Regions from separate parts of the Homo sapiens genome. Here region 1 is linked to region 2. The links come from fine-mapping of genetic effects on gene expression. A gene starts in region 2. The other region holds a variant in brackets. All regions are shown on one strand. Distances are from middle to middle.

Evidence for each region. PIP is the estimated chance that this variant, and not a neighbour inherited with it, causes the effect.
Region 1: its variant is fine-mapped to the expression of CTNNA2 in pancreas (GTEx, PIP above 0.99).

What each region holds. Positions count from the first base shown.
Region 1 is chr2:79,211,037-79,219,377 of GRCh38, reverse strand. It overlaps a transcript of CTNNA2 not described here. Among named protein-coding and RNA genes, the nearest start is that of REG3A, 55 kb to the right of the region's middle. The variant G/A (reference allele first, on the strand shown) is at 4,647.
Region 2 is chr2:79,508,254-79,516,594 of GRCh38, reverse strand. It overlaps CTNNA2 (catenin alpha 2), which reads right to left and starts at 3,544. Exons shown (of 19, transcript NM_001282597.3): 1 at 3,388-3,544.

The DNA of each region.
Region 1 (8,341 bases), 300 kb after region 2:
AGGACGGTGCGAAATAAAACATTTCCATTTTCACAAAGTTTTAAATTAGATTGTTTTCCCATTTAAAAAGAGTGGAGGCTTTAGAAAGTGCTGATTCTGATTCTTTCTATAATTTATAACACTGAACAAATGGAAACATTTAAATGTTCAGCAACAGAATATTGGTCATCTAAATTGTGATATAAATGATATAATGAAATATTACATAGCCATTAAGAATAATGTTTTCTTAGAATGTGAAGGATGCTCATGGTACAATTTTAGGGAAAAAATAGGAGGAAGTAAAGGCGTTTACATATGTATAAATACAAATATGAAATATATCATTCAAAATGTGGCAATTTTGTACTATACATACATACACACACCCTTGCATAGAAAGAAAGACATCATAATATTACCAGAGATTAACTATGAGTGGTAAAATTATGGAGGATTTTATTTTCCTTTTAGAACTTTCCTTTATTTTCCATTTTTCTCCCAAGATTAGAAAACAAGTATCAATCAAAAATTGCCATAAAAACAGTATAAGTTTTTGAACTTTAGCAAAAAGTTACACAATGTCTGAAAGATTCTGGTAATTCACTTTTTGAAAAACTTTAAAGCAGAATACACTCATAATTATGCATAATTATTATCACCAACGCAGTTTCCAAGATCCGTGATTTGTACCATGTTGCTCAGGCCTGCGATGGTGGTCTCTGATCCTCCCTATAGTGCTACAGTAGTTTAATACCTGAACCCAGTGTTCCATTCTCCATGCAAACATTAGGAAGCAAACTGGCAACACTTATATTGTCAAAACTGTCCTAAATGAGAGTCTCTTCCGAGTCCCTACTGCTACTCCTTAACTCACAAACATTCTTTTTTCACTGACACTTACAGAAATGAAGGAAGCTGTGTGCAGTGGCTCACGCCTATAATCCCAGCTCTTTGGGAGGCTGAGGCAGGAGGACTGCTTGAGGCCAGGAGTTCACGACCAGCCTGGGCAATGTAGCAAGATCCTGTCTCTAAAAAAAAAAAAAATACACACACACACACACACACACACACACACACACACACAAAGTTCATGAAGATTCTGGTGCCTGGCTTAGGAAAGGAAGCTCAGACTCTACTGGACCCCTGTGCTTCTGTCTCTCCACTTCCTGCCTTTGGGCAGGGTGATGGAAGCCCTAGATGCAGCAGGCAGCCTGCTCTGTGGGAGAGGTGGGCTTGGCTGGGATCAGAGCCTTACCAATTTCTAGGCTTATACCTGATGTTCTGTAAGCTTCAAGTTTTTTATTTCTAAAATGGAGGAAGCATGGGAGGCTTTTGTGGGATTGCAACACTTTAAGTGAATTGCCTGAATCATGGAAGAAATAGGTTTTTATTTTATTATGTAGATGTTCATTCAATTAACAACCTCCTTTTTCCTCCTTTCATCAAATATTTTAAGCATGTGCTCCGTACCTGCTATGTGGTGTCACAAGCTAGTTAAAGAAGTAAACAACAATGTTTGCCCTCAAGAAGTTTAGTGTCTAGACCTGGGAGAGAGAAAATAGGAATTGGGTAGATAGGATGTTAGAATGAGGTTTTGTGTTTATCTGGCTAAGTCAGGCTATATTTTCAATTTGTGTAGCTGTAGGTGTCATAGGCTTTGATTTCCTCTAGAATCCTTGTTTTACTTTTGTCAGGCCTCTGAGCCCAAGCTAAGCCATCATATTCCCTGTGACCTGCACGTACACATCCAGATGACTGGTTCCTGCCTTAACTGATGACATTCCACTACAAAAGAAATGAAAATGGCCTGTTCCTGCCTTAACTCCTTGTGAAATTCCTTCTCCTGGCTCATCCTGGCTCAAAAGCTCCCCTACTGAGCACCTTGTGGCCCCCACTCCTGCCCGCCAGAGAACCCCCCTTTGACTGTAATTTTCCTTTACCTACCCAAATCTTATAAAACGGCCCCACCTCTATCTCCCTTCACTGACTCTCTTTTCAGACTCAGCCCCCCTGCACCCAGGTGAAATAAACAGCTTTATTGCTCACACAAAGCCTGTTTGGTGGTCTCTTCACACGGACTCACATGAAATTTGGTGCCGTGACTCGGATCGGGGGACCTCCCTTGGGGGATCAATCCCCTGTCCTCCTGCTCTTTGCTCCGTGAAAAAGATCCACTTACGATCTCAGGGCCTCAGACCCACCAGCCCAAGGAACATCTCACCAATTTTAAATCAGGTAAGCGTCCTTTTCTTACTCTCTTCTCCAACCTCTCTCACTATCCCTCAACCACTATCTCCTTTCAATATTGGCGCCACCCTTCAATCTCTCCCTTCTCTTAATTTCAATTCCTTTCATTTTCTGGTAGAGACAAAGGAGACACGTTTTATCCATGGACCCAAAACTCAGGCACCAGTCATGGACTCAGGAAGGCAGCCTTCCCTTGGTGTTTAATCATTGCAGGGACGCCTCTCTGATTATTTACCCACGTTTCAGAGGTGTCTGACCACGTGGGGATGCCTGCCTTGGTCCTTCACCCTTAGTGGCAAGTACTGCAGTTCTGGGGGGCATGAACCCCCCAACCCCTTCTCTCCATGTCTCTACCCCTTCTCTGCTTTTCTGGGGGCAAGAACCCCCCAACCCCTTCTTCACCCTTAGCTGCAAGTACCGCTTTTCTAGGGGGCAAGAACCCCCCAACCCCTTCTCCTTCACCCTTAGCCACAAGTACCGCTTTTCTAGGGAGCAAGAACCCCCCAACCCCTTCTCTGCATGTCTCTACCCCTTCTCTGCTTTTCTGGGGACAAGAACCCCCTGATCCCTTATTTCCATGACTCGACCCCTTATCTCTGTGCCCCAATCCCTTATTTCTGCACCCCAACCTCTTATCTCTGTGCCCCGATCCCTTATTTCCATGCCCCAACCTCTTATCTCTGTGCCCTGATCCCTTATTTCCATGCTCCGACCTCTTATCTCTGCACCCCAACCCTTTATTTCCGCACCCCGACCACTTTCCTGCTTTTCTGGAGGGTAAGAACCCCCAAACCCCTTCCCTCCGTGTCTCTCTCTTTTCTCTAGGCTTGCCTCCTTCATTATGGGCAACCTTCCACCCTCCATTCCTCCTTCTTCTCCCTTAGCCTGTGTTCTTAAAAACCTAAAACCTCTTCAACTCACACCTGACCTAAAACCTAAATGCCTTATTTTCTTCTACAATGCCGCTTGACCCCAATACAAACTTGACAGCCGTTCCAAATAGCCAGAAAATGGCACTTTCATTTTTTCCATCCTACAAGATCTAAATAATTCTTGTCGTAAAATAGGCAAATGGTCCGAGGTGCCTGACGTCCAGGCATTCTTTTACACATCAGTCCCTCCCTGGTCTCTGTTCCCAATGCAACTCGTCCCAAATCTTCCTTCTTTCCCTCCCACATGTCCCCTCAGTCCCAACCCCAAGCGTCACTGAGTCTTTCTAATCTTCCTTTTCTACTGACCCATCTGACCTCTCCCTTCCTCGCAAGGCCGAGCTAGGTCATAATTCTTCCTCAGCCTCTGCTCCTCCACCCTATAATCCTTTTATCACCTCCCCTCCTCACACCCGGTCTGGCTTACAGTTTCGTTCTGTGACTAGCCCTCCCCCACCTGCCCAGCAATTTCCTCTTAAAAAGGTGGCTAGAGCTAAAGGCATAGTCAAGGTTAATGCTCCTTTTTTTAATCCCAAATCAGAGAGCGTTTAGGCTCTTTTTCATCAAATATAAAAACCCAGCCCAGTACATGACTCGTTTGACAGCAACCCTGAGACACTTTACAGCCCTAGACCCTAAAAGGTCAAAAGGTCGTCTTATTCTCAAAATACGTTTTATTACCCAATCTGCTCCTGACATTAAATAAAACTCCAAAAATTAAATTCCAGCCCTCAAACCCCACAACAGGACTTAATTAACCTCACCTTCGAGGTGTACAATAATAGACTAGAGGCAGCCAAATAGCAACATATTTCTCAGTTGCAATTCTTTGCCTCCACTGTGAGACAAACCCCAGCCACATCTCCAGCACACAAGAACTTCCAAACGCCTGAACCGCAGTGGCCAGGCGTTCCTCCAGGCCCGCCTCTCCCAGGAGCTTGCTACAAGTGCCAGAAATCTGGCAACCAGGCCAAGGAATGCCCACAGCCCAAGATTCCTCCTAAGCCACGTCCCATCTGTGCAGGACCCCACTGAAAATCGGACTGTTCAACTCACCTGGCAGCCACTCCCAGAGCCCCTGGAACTCTGGCCCAAGGCGCTCTGACTGACTCCTTCCCAGATCTTCTCAGCTTAGCAGCTGAAGACTGACGCTGCCCGATCGCCTCAGAAGCCCCCTAGACCATCACGGACGCCGAGCTTCAGGTGACTCTCACAGTGGAAGGTAAGTCCGTCCCCTTCTTAATCAATACGGAGGCTACCCACTCCACATTACCTTCTTTTCAAGGGCCTGTTTCCCTTGCCTCCAGAACTGTTGTGGGTATTGACGGCCAGGCTTCTAAACCTCTTAAAACTCCCCAACTCTGGTGCCAACTTAGACAATACTTTTATGCACTCTTTTTTACTTATCCCCACCTGCCCAGTTCCCTTATTAGGCCGAGATATTTTAACCAAATTATCTGCTTCCCTGACTATTCTTGGACTACAGCC[G/A]CATCTCACTGCCGCCCTTTTCCCCAACCCAAAGCCTCCTTTGCGTCTTCCTCTCGTATCCCCCCACCTTACCCACAAGCATAGGACATCTCTACTCCTTCCCTGGCAACTGATCACAGGCCCATTACCATCCCATTAAAACCTAATCACCCTTACCCCGCTCAATGCCAATATCCCATCCCATAGCACGCTTTAAAAGGATTAAAGCCTGTTATCACTCGCCTGTTATAGCATGGCCTTTTAAAGCCTATAAACTTTCCTTACAATTTCCCCATTTTACCTGTCCTAGAACCAGACGAGCCTTACAGGTTAGTTCAGGATCTGCCCCTTATCAACCAAATTGTTTATACTCTCATATCCTCAATACCTCCCTCCACAATCCATTATTCTGTTCTAGATCTCAAACATGCTTTCTTTACTATTTCTTTGCACCCTTCATCCCAGCCTCTCTTCGCTTTCACTTGGACTGACCCTGACACCCATCAGGCTCAGCAAATTACCTGGGCTATACTGCTGCAAAGCTTCACAGACAGCCCCCATTACTTCAGTCAAGCCTAAATTTCTTCCTCATCTGTTACCTATCTTGGCATAATTCTCGTAAAAACACATGTGCTCTCCCTGCTGATTGTGTCCGACTAATCTCCCAAACCTCAATCCCTTCTACAAAACAACAACTCCTTTCCTTCCTAGGCATAGTTAGTGCGGTCAGAATTCTTACACAAGAGCCAGGACCCCACCCTGTAGTGTTTCTGTCCAAACAACTTGACCTTACTGTTTTAGCCTAGCCCTCATGTCTGCGTGCAGCGGCTGCCGCTGCTTTAATACTTTTAGAGGCCCTAAAAATCACAAACTATGCTCAACTCACTCTCTACAGTTCTCATAACTTCCAAAATCTGTTTTCTTCCTCATACCTGACGCATATACTTTCTGCTTCCTGGCTCCTTCAGCTATACTCACTCTTTGTTGAGTTTCCCACAATTACCATTGTTCCTTGCCCGGACTTCAATCCAGCCTCCCACATTATTCTGGATACCACAGCTGACCCTCATGACTATATCTGTCTGATCCACCTGACATTCACCCAATTTCCCCATGTTTCCTTATTTCCTGTTCCTCACTCTGATCACATTTAGTTTATTGATGGCGGTTCCACCAGGCCTAATCGCCACTCACCAGCAAAGGCAGGCTATGCTATAGTATCTTCCACATCTATCATTAAGGCTACTGCTCTGCTCTCCTCCACTACCTCTCAGCAAGCCGAACTAGTTGCCTTAACTCAAGCCCTCACTCTTGCAAAAGGACTAAACGTCAATATTTATACTGACTCTAAATATGCCTTCCATATCCTGCACCACCATGCAAGAGGTTTCCTCACTACACAAGGGTCCTCTATCATTAATGCCTCTTTAATAAAAACACTTCTCAAAGCTGCTTTACTTCCAAAGGAAGCTGGAGTCATTCACTGCAAAGGCCGTCGAAGGGCATCATCAGATCCCATCGCTCAGGACAATGCTTATGCTGATAAGATAGCTAAAAAAGCAGCTAGCATTCCAACTTATATCCCTCACTTTCAGTTTTTCTCCTTCTCATCTGGCCACTCCCACCTACTCCCCTGCTGAAACTTCCACCTATCAATCTCTTCCCACACAAGGCAAATGGTTCTTAGACCAAGGGAAATATCTCCTTCCAGCCTCACAGGCCCATTCTATTCTGTCGTCATTTCCTAACTTCTTCCATGTAGGTTACAAGCCACTAGCCCATCTCTTAGAACCTCTCATTTCCTTTGCATCATGGAAATCTATCCTCAAGGAAATCACTTCTCAGTGTTCCATCTGCTATTCTACTACTCCTCAGGGATTATTCAGGCCCACTCCCTTTCCCACACATCAAGCTCAAGGATTTGCCCCTGCCCAGGACTGGCAAATTAGCTTTACTCACATGCCCCGAGTCAGAAAACTAAAATACCTCTTAGTCTAGGTAGACACTTTCACTGGATAGGTAGAGGCCTTTCCTACAGGGTCTGAGAGGCCACCGCGGTCATTTCTTCCCTTCTGTCAGACATAATTACTCGGTTTGGCCTTCCCACCTCTACGCAGTCCGATAGTGGACCGGCCTTCATTAGTCAAATCAGCCAAGCAGTTTTTCGGGCTCTTAGTATTCAGTGAAACCTTTATATCCCTTACAGTCCTCAGTCTTCAGGAAAGGTAGAATGTACTATTGGTCTTTTAAAAACACACCTCACCAAGCTCAGCCACCAACTTAAAAAGGACTGGACAATACTTTTACCTCTTTCTTTTCTCAGAATTCAGGCCTGTCCTCAGAATGCTACAGGGTACAGCCCATTTGAGCTCCTGTATAGACGCTCCTTTTTATTAGGCCTCAGTGTCATTCCAGACACCAGACCAACTTGGACTGTGCCCCAAAAAACTTGTCATCCCTACTATCTTCTGTCTAGTCATACTCCTATTCACCGTTCTCAACTACTCATACATGCCCTGCTCTTGTTTACACTGCCGGTTTACACTGTTTCTCCAAGTCATCACAGCTGATATCTCCTGGTGCTATCCCCAAACTGCCACTCTTAACTCTTAAAGTAAATAAATAATCTTTGCTGGCAGGGCTATGCTGAACCTCCTTAGGCACTCTCTAATCAGATGTTCTGGGTCCTCCCAATTCTTAGACCTTTAATCCATTTAGTTTTTCAATTCATACAAAACCATATCCAGGCCATCATCAATAATTCTAAATGACAAATGTTTCTTCTAACAGTCCCACAATATCACCCCTTACCACAAAATCTTCCTTCAGTTTAATCTCTCCCACTCTAGGTTCCCGCGCCGCCCCTAATCCCGCTCGAAGCAGCCCTGAGAAACATCGCCCACTATCTCTCCATACCATCCCCCAAAATTGTTGCCATCCCAACACTTAACCACTATTTCATTTTATTTTTCTTATTAATATAAGAAGACAGGAATGTCATGCCTCTGAGCCCAAGCTAAGCCATCATATCCCATGTGACCTGCACGTACACATCCAGATGACTGGTTCCTGCCTTAACTGATGACATTCCACCACAAAAGAAATGAAAATGGCCTGTTCCTGCCTTAACTGATGACATTATCTTCTGAAATTCCTTCTCCTGGCTCATCCTGACTCAAAAGCTCCCCTACTGAGCATCTTGTGACCTCCACTCCTGCCCGCCAGAGAACAACCCCCCTTTGACTGTAATTTTCCTTTACCTACCCAAATCTTATAAAAAGGCCCCACCCCTATCTCCCTTCACTGACTCTCTTTTCAGACTCAGCCCGCCTGCACCCAGGTGAAATAAACAGCTTTACTGCTCACACAAAGCCTGTTTGGTGGTCTCTTCTCACGGACGCGCATGAAAAGTTTCCCTTGTTGTCTTGGAATAATACTCTAAAAACCCCTTCTTAAAGATAGTCTGTGTTTTTCAGCTCTCAGTTGTACAGTGTGCCGGAGACTTTCATACCCAGAGTACAATTACAGGTGGGGAAATAAATGGTTATCTTTACTAAAATGAGAAGGGAGAGTGTGAAAGGTAAGATTTAAACAAACATCCACTTAAAATCATGGATTCCTCCTCAAGAAGCTCAAATTTGAAGAGTATCTGAAATAAATGTAAGACCTAGAAATTGATTTATATGCTCTCAGTTTTGAATTCCAGTTTTCATTTT
Region 2 (8,341 bases):
AGTGATAGTATAATTACTCTGACTGTATGTACTCTACCTTTCAATACATTCACCTGTATGCCAAATCTTCCAGTAAATAGTCTCTCTAATGTTCTTCAAACACACCATGCCTTTTCCTCCCTCTCTGCTTTTGTTCCAGCCCACCCTGCATGAAATCATTCCCAGGAGTCTCTGTCCAAGCTCCAGTGCTACTACCAAATATAATATTTTCCCAGCTACACAGACACCCGTCTTCTTCCCAATTCCTCTAGTACTTACTTGCGCTTCTGTCTTTCTAGTACATAATCATATATGGTCTTGGAATGTGTTTAAGTGATTTCTCCTAATTATAATAATGTTTACTTAATACATGTTTTGTTTGTACCAAGTACTGAGCTAAACACATTTAACCTTTAAAGCAAGCCCATGAATCAGAGTCCCTTACAATTTTCATTTTATAGATGAAAAAACAGATTTAAATTGTACACAAGGACATGATCCTCCTAAGAACTAGAGCCTGTACTCACATCTAAAGCTGTCTCCAAAGATCTTGTTACTTGCCACTGTGAAATAGGACCTCATGCAAATGCCTGTTCTCCTCAACTAGACTGTAAGCTGAGGTCAAAGAGAGTGTCTTTTACTTCTTTCTACTTTCTTGGAATGCCTCACACCACTCAGCCTAGGGTTAGGCAGGTGTTAAGAGCTCTGAGGGAGGGAGACACAGAGAATATATCCGGAATACATTTTACAGGGGTCCATAAGATCTTCTATTGGCTCTTTATTGTATCAAGTATTTTTAAAGGTCCAGTCAACTAAAGACAGAAGCCTCTAGAAATGAAATTCTTCAGAGGAAGTCAGTCTTTATCTGCAAACTGGATTATAGTCAAGGAGGCAAGCTGCTTTTCAAAGACACTAGTTGCTCTTCTAAAATGCACATTTTATTAATTGTACTCATCTCTCTTAAAATTTTGCTGTAAAAAAATGTTACTTTGTTTGCTAGTTCTTTAATAACTTGGTATGTTTTGTTTCCACTCAGTGGACTAATGTTTACAAAGGAGGCAAGTGAAAAGTACCTGTGTTTCTATACTAAGCACAGTATCAAAAACTGGGGCATACACCCACACCACTCTGCAGAAAAACTGCAACAAAGAAAGAGCAAAGCCCATAGAGGGGCTGCCACCTCCCCACATTCACAACTCTGAAGCCCCACAAAGAACAGCAGACATACTGGCAGGGGAAAAGTCTTTTGAAAGAAATTTGGACAAAACTAACTTATTATGCTCATGTATAATTAACATGACAGTCTTTCACTTGTTTCACGGTATTCTAGGGAAAGGAACACCAACAAGGAAAACACTCCTATCTACAAGTTCACTATTAAGTAATGCAAGCATTCCAATACACACAGGGTTGACTGCAATCTGCATCAGGATGTTGGTAACACTGGTAATTCAACCAAGCTTTAGTTACATGGCTGAAGAGTCAGCCAAGCCATTAATGGAATTGCATTCCTACCATGGGGAGTTGAAGGAGTCCATCACTCCTAATATTACACACTTCCCCAGCACTGACTCAGGTGATTAACTATCAGCTCTTCATCAAATCAGCACTCAATCACTTAGGAAGGCAATTCTCTTCATCTCAACTCCTGCTTTACACTCCCATAAAATGCAAAACTGCATATTGCACTACTGTCATATAATAATTTAAATGAAAAGAAAAAAATCAATAATGTGTTCCACAGCATAGTGTCTTACTGGCAACTTCAAAGAATCCACCATTAATTTTGGTCCCTCACACATACTCCTTAAACACAAAACACAGCTATTCTAAAGATATTAAGGTTTTTTGGTCTGTTGTTTTAGGAGAATATAAATAGAACAAAATATAGGCTTCAAAATATCCATTTTTGATTTATACTTACACTGTTGGACCCTTCTGAGATGATAAATATGCTAAACATTCTGAGGCATGGCTGTCCCGCCATGTAAAAATAAACTTTACAGCAGCAATGCTAACAGAAAGAATTGTCAAATTGCCAATAACATGTATAATGTAAGGGGTTAGAATGCAAGCTGAAGAGAGCAAGGTAAATTATAGCATTCTGTGAAAATAAGTGATGTAAAACCAACAGCAATTTTAAATTATTAACAATGGTTCCGAAGCTAATTCAACTTTTCCATTGGTGTAAGCCACAAACAGAATCACACAGCATGTTTCTCTTTAAACATCTTCAGGGGTCCTACGAGGTGGGTGAAAATGGGTAAGGGTGTCTGTTAAAGGCTCTAATGCAGCTAATGCCATCTAAATGGTATATTTACAAGCCTGTGGAGTATAACCTCATTTCTCCAAAACTGTCTAACCATTATCCTACTTGAGAAGTTAACCCATGATGAACAAAAGTACCTCTCTTCCACCCTTCTGCTCCCTATTTTCCCAAACCTTTCTATCTTGGTATTTTGTATGCTGAGCAAAACATTCCATAAATAATGCTGTGGTGCACAGGCATTAAAGTTTAGAGAGTTTCTGCCTTTGAAGTAGGTAGTGACAGGACCAAGGACACACGGGTTCAATTCCAAGCCAAATATGAGGCGGGTGGTTTGAAAATGTCAAACCAAAGAGGCCTAGGGGAAAAGAACACAAGCTTCCACTGCCACCTCCCTTCCTCTCCCCTCCCCTTTTTCTCTCTTGTTCCTTTCCTCTCTTCTCCTTTTTCGTTGTGGTTTCTCACGGAGACAATCAAAGCAGGGAAGGCTGGATTTTAAATTGGTGAGACACACACTGGAAATATGTAATTCCCAGAAGAAAAAAAGAAACTGCTGAAGAGGGGTATGGGGGCTGTTGGCAGCATGTCCAAGTGACAACCCTCCCCACCCCCACCCTAATATAGCACAAATCCACAGATTCTTCTTCGATCCTCTTCTCCCTCCAGTTCCCAGTACTCTACCCAACTTGACCCTTCATCCTAAAAATTTAGGAATCTGCAGGGCACCCGCTGTTTAAGAGTGTGTCTCTCAGTATATGCACCCAATTTTCTGGAACCCCTGAATCCGGACAGTTGTAGCAGGCAAGGGATGCTCCCACCCTCCCACCGGGGAAGAGGTAAGAAAGGGGGGAAGAAGAGATGGAGACAAGAGGAAAGGGATGCAGAGCTGTGCTCTAGGGCGAGTGGCTGCAAGGAAGACGGGGAAGAAAGAAAGGGTGGGAAGGAAGTGGGGCTGGGAGAGAGGAAGAAAGGGATGAAAGAAAGGCTGGAAGGGAGAAAGGAGGGGAGAGGAGAGAGGGATGTTGGGAAGGATGAGGGAGGGAGGGTTGGGGAGCGGGGAGGGGGGAGGATGGAGAGGATGGGAGGGAGGTGGGGAGGGAGGGAGGCAGGCAGGGATGGAGGATGCTCTGCCCGGGACTCACCTCTGTGGGTCGGTGGGAGTTTCTCGCCTCCTCCTCTTTCTCGCCCGTTCCCAGCAGCTGGAGTGGTAATCACAGAAGGGACTGGAGAGGCGGCGGCAGGGACAAGGGCAGCAGCTGCTGCAGCCGCCTCTGGCCGAGGTGCGGTGCCGCCTGCTCTGCCCGCCCGCCTGGGTCTCCGCCTCACTCGGGGCTGGAAGCGAAGCCGCTCCCCCCTCCCCCCGCCCGCCCCGCGTCCTGCCCAAGCGCGAGCGGCAGCGGCCCGGATCGCCGCTAGGGGAGGCAGCCAGTGCGCATGCGCGGCCGCTTGCTCGCTCGCGCGCCCCCGCGGTCCCCGTGGCTCCGCGGCGCCTGGAAAGGCACCGGGCATCGAGGGGTGGCTGGGTGGGGGGCCGCGGGCGCGCGCGGCCTGGGGAGCGCCCGAAAGGGCGGGGCGGGGTAGGGCGGAGCTCTGGAGGCGCGGCAGGCTCGGCGCCGCAGGTGGGGGGAGGGGACGGCGGCGAAGGGGCACCGCCGTAGGGCGCAGGTGCCGTGTCCATGACAACCGCGTTACCCTGCGGGCGGGGACCCGGAGCTGAATCGCCGGAGTCGCGAGGCCCGGGGAGAGGGACCGGGTGCGGGAGCGGGCAGGATAGGGGCGGGGGGGATAGGGGTGTCGCAGAGTAGGAAAGGAGGGCCAGCCCAGCAGGGGTCCGACACGTGGCAGGAGGAGGGCAGGGCCAGAGTGCTGCAAAGGTAGTGACTGCCGCGGAAGGGAGGTTTGTTGGGATGTGGAGTCCCGAGGGGAGAGGAAGGGAGATTTGGACTTTAAAAGAACCTAGAAGAGGATGGAATTGTTAAAACAACTGGAATATTTGCTCATTTAACAAGCCTTTGTTGAATATTTTCTCCGTGGAAGGCATTGTGATTCTTTTCTTGATTCAGTGGATATTACTTGGCTCCTAGTTTGTACCAGACACTGTACTTAGGCATTTTGAGATATCCAAAAATGTTCGTCCTCTGAGAGGTTATACTGTAGTTGGGGAACTTACATAGCTAGGGCAGGGAGTGTTTGCGCCGCCAGCCATCGGCAGCTGGGACTCGATGTTGCTGGAATGTAACTGTTACAGAGGTGCTAACAGTGAAAAAGGTACACAGCTACATCAGATGAGAAATATAAGTTACAGTCATCTTTGTTCTGCCACAGTGCCAAATGACAATTTTGTTTTGTTTTAAATCAAGAGAGAGAAACAAAAAGAAAATCTGTGGAAGTTTAGTATGACACAACCGACGCTAAGTTCACAACATGCTACCTGTTTGGTATCCTAGTCCACTAGCATCAGTGCGTGTGTTCATGCCGACACTTGGATGGCTTTATGTCACTTAGTGCATGCATTTTTTAAATTCTCCTTCATCAATGGCTATGCCATTGATATTTTTCCCTCCCCCCTTTTGCTTCCAAGTTCGCGTCTGCAATTGTTTGAAAATTACATAAAATCCTACTATTTTTAATTCTCTCTAGGGAATGACTGGAGAGGGATACCTCTGTCCATGCCTCTATCTTTCTCTCCCAATATCTTTTTGGCTTTCTTTTTTCTTGTCCCCACCACTTTACCAATTTAAAAATTCCTGGGAAAAAGTGAACAGGAGTCACCGGATATTGGCTTAAGAAGAATCTTAGCACGCAACCATGTTTCAGGACCACGGACAGTGACACCGCGTGCTCTTACCACCTAGCGTTTTTCTTAGACTGCCTATAGAAACAGGAGAAACACGCTAAAGGCACACGATGTGCTTCATGAAGTGCCGAGCGCCAAATGATTTGTGCCAAAAGGTATAAAGAGTGGAGAATGAAAAGTGCATACTATGGACTGGAGTAGGTAGGAAGGAGGTAGGCCTTCAGCTGAATTTTGAAGCATGAATAAGATTTAGAGAGGCATCACAAGTCCCTGATGTGGTAAGATGTGGTAAGCACCAGCGAGGTGCTTAAATAAAAAGGGATACTGCATACAGTGTCATTCCAGAGGCAGAAGACACCTATGAATTTGAATGGTCCAAGAATCTGGAAAGAGTAAAGTTGTCCTAGTCAAATGAGGTAGAGCATGCACGTAAGAATTGACTTTTTAAAAAAATGATTATTGTGATCTTTTTCATACTCTGGTCAGGCCTGAGGGAATAAACTAAAAACTACAGGCCAAAGAGTGACCAGACAAATTTATCTCTTTAAGTTCCAAGGATTCATGTATAGTTTTTTGTATTGTTGTAATTAGGCTTACATTTATAATTTTTGTTTTAATTGCAATTAAATAATGTAGACCACAAAAGAAAAATAATGTAAACCAAGTGCTGTCTAGTCAAAATGAGATTTGTCTTGTTTGTTGTTTTGTAGTGACTTTCAAAACTGTAGAATATTATCGAGAGACATTTAAAAGTCATTTCTAAAATATTTGTAAGCTTTTAGTTCATGCAATTGCTTTAAATTAGAGTTATTAAAAAACCAGCATAAAAGCCATCTTTGATTTCTCAGACCCTTGGTCTCCCTCAGTTCTTCAAAATACATCAAACTGTGGTCTGTCAATCAGACAGTGATAAGAAATTACTCAGGCAATGGGTTTCAGTCACCAGCAGGCAAATGGCAGCTGAGATTTTTGTTCCCTGCTGCCAAGGAATTTACTAACTCTTTTATGTTTTGAATAAAGGGGAACCCTCAACCCTGTCTACCCTATGGAAAATCCAAATTGAATGTTACTACAGCCATATTTATTTCCCTCTGATAACAGTCTAAATATGCTTGTATAAATAATGGCTATTATTAGATGCTAAAATGCTATCATGTTGTTTGTCCCCATTGTAAACTAAGGGGATTTTTTAAAACCCTTATTTCTTTTGTTTTGAGTCTGCTTGTGAATCTGATTGTTTTTGATTTTCTTGATTTAAGTGTTGTCCTTCATTTCAATGACATAAACATATACAGTCCTCAGAAAAACAAGCAATTTTCTTCTTTCCCTCACTCATATTAAAAATTTATGCCAACATAAATATCAAACAAAAGGATCATTGTTAAAGGTATGGCATTGTGTTCAAATGCAGAAGATCCTGTATGTAATTATAATACAATTTAATGTGCAATCAAATGACATCTAGATTTTTAGGATACTCCAAGCCAATATTGGCATCTTAAGTAAAATTTTCTGTATTGCTTATTCATTTAAATGTCAGGTCTCTACACACTAGGACCCTAATTCAGTCTGTCAGCTCCAGAAATTTCACTATCAAGCCCTCCTGAGCAATTTCATTGCTTTAATAGACTTTATTTTTTGGAGCAGTTTTAGGTTCACAGAAAAATTGAGTGAGAAGTACAAAGAGTTTTCATATACCTCCGGCCCCCACAAGGGCACGACTCCCTGTGATCAACCCCTGGACCACAGTAGCATGTTTGTTACAATTGGTGAACCTATATTGACACATCATCATCACCAAAGTCCATAGTTTACATCAGAGTTCACTCTTGGTTTTGTACATTTTGGGGGTTTTGAAAGAAGTATAACGACATGTATCCACCACTATGGTATCATACTAGTTTTACTCACTAAAAATACTCTGTGTTCTGTCTATTCTTCTCTTTCTTGCTCCTAACCCCTGGAAACCATTGGTGTTTTTCCTGTCTCCAAGTTTTGCCTTCTCCAGAATGTCATAGAGTTGGGGTCATGCAATATGTAGCCTTTTCAGATTGGCTTCTTTCACTTAGTAATATGCATGTAAGATTCCACCATGTATTTTCATGGCTTGACAGCTCTGTTTTTAGCACTGAATAATATTCAGTTGTCTCTATTTACCACAACTTATCCACTCACCTACAGAAGGTCATCTAGATTGCTTCCAAGTTTTGGCAATTATGAATAAAGATGCTATAGCAATTTCATCTTTTAAGGACCTCCTAAATATTTCAGACCCTGTCACTATATTTATTATGTATCAATTGAACCCCTGGATTTCTCCTCATATGGTCCAGCTTTTTCCTACAAATCTAGCTGCAGATTTCTTCTCTTGTCTGAGAAACAACCAATGAAACTTTCACTTTTGTCGTTTTATGTATTCCTTTTACTATTAAAAAATTAAAATAACTTGTTTTAAGTTTTTTGTTTTGTACCAGTAGTTTCTAACTCTAATTTTCATTTTTTCAAACATATTTATCATTTGTATCCCTAGGTAATTGTTTATATATATATATATATATATATATATATATATATATATATATATATATATATATATACTGCAATGGTGAATATATATATATGTTTTCAAGTAAACAGAATGAGTGTTTTGGGATCCATGTGTGTAATTGTTTTATCTTTTGCTTGTTGAAACATTTCAACCATAACCTTATATAGGTAGAATGTACCATATTCTAGTTTGTGACATTGGACAAGTTTTTTAATGTCTATGACACTCAGTTTTCCAGTCTGCAAAATGGAGGCAATTTTTATCTATCTTCATGACTTTCTTGTGAGAATTTTATGAAATAATACTTGACATGTTTTAGCACACTGTTGTCCATAAATAGAGCTGTATACTTGCTTTAATTAATACTTCTAATATCAATGAGTCAATTAATCAAGCAGTAAAATAATATTATTCCTCAGTGTCTTTTGACCAATTTGAATCTGTTTCTATCATCTTTTATTTCCAATTAATCTTTTTCTTTAAAAAGAAAGAATAAGCTTTAATATGTCTTCTCATAGTAATTGTATCTCTCTCATCTTCAGGTTCCCTAATAGATTTACTTTCCCTTTAGGAGAAAGCCGAGACTGCTGTCTGTTTAATACATTTTGAAATTGTGTCATTTTACTCTCAATTGTCACCCTGGAGCATGTTTTTCCTGTATCTGCTCTATGGAAGAATAGTTTCAGTCTTAATTCTTTCAAAAGCAAATGACTGAAGTCCAATTTAAGTTTTGAGCAAAAAGGAAATTTTG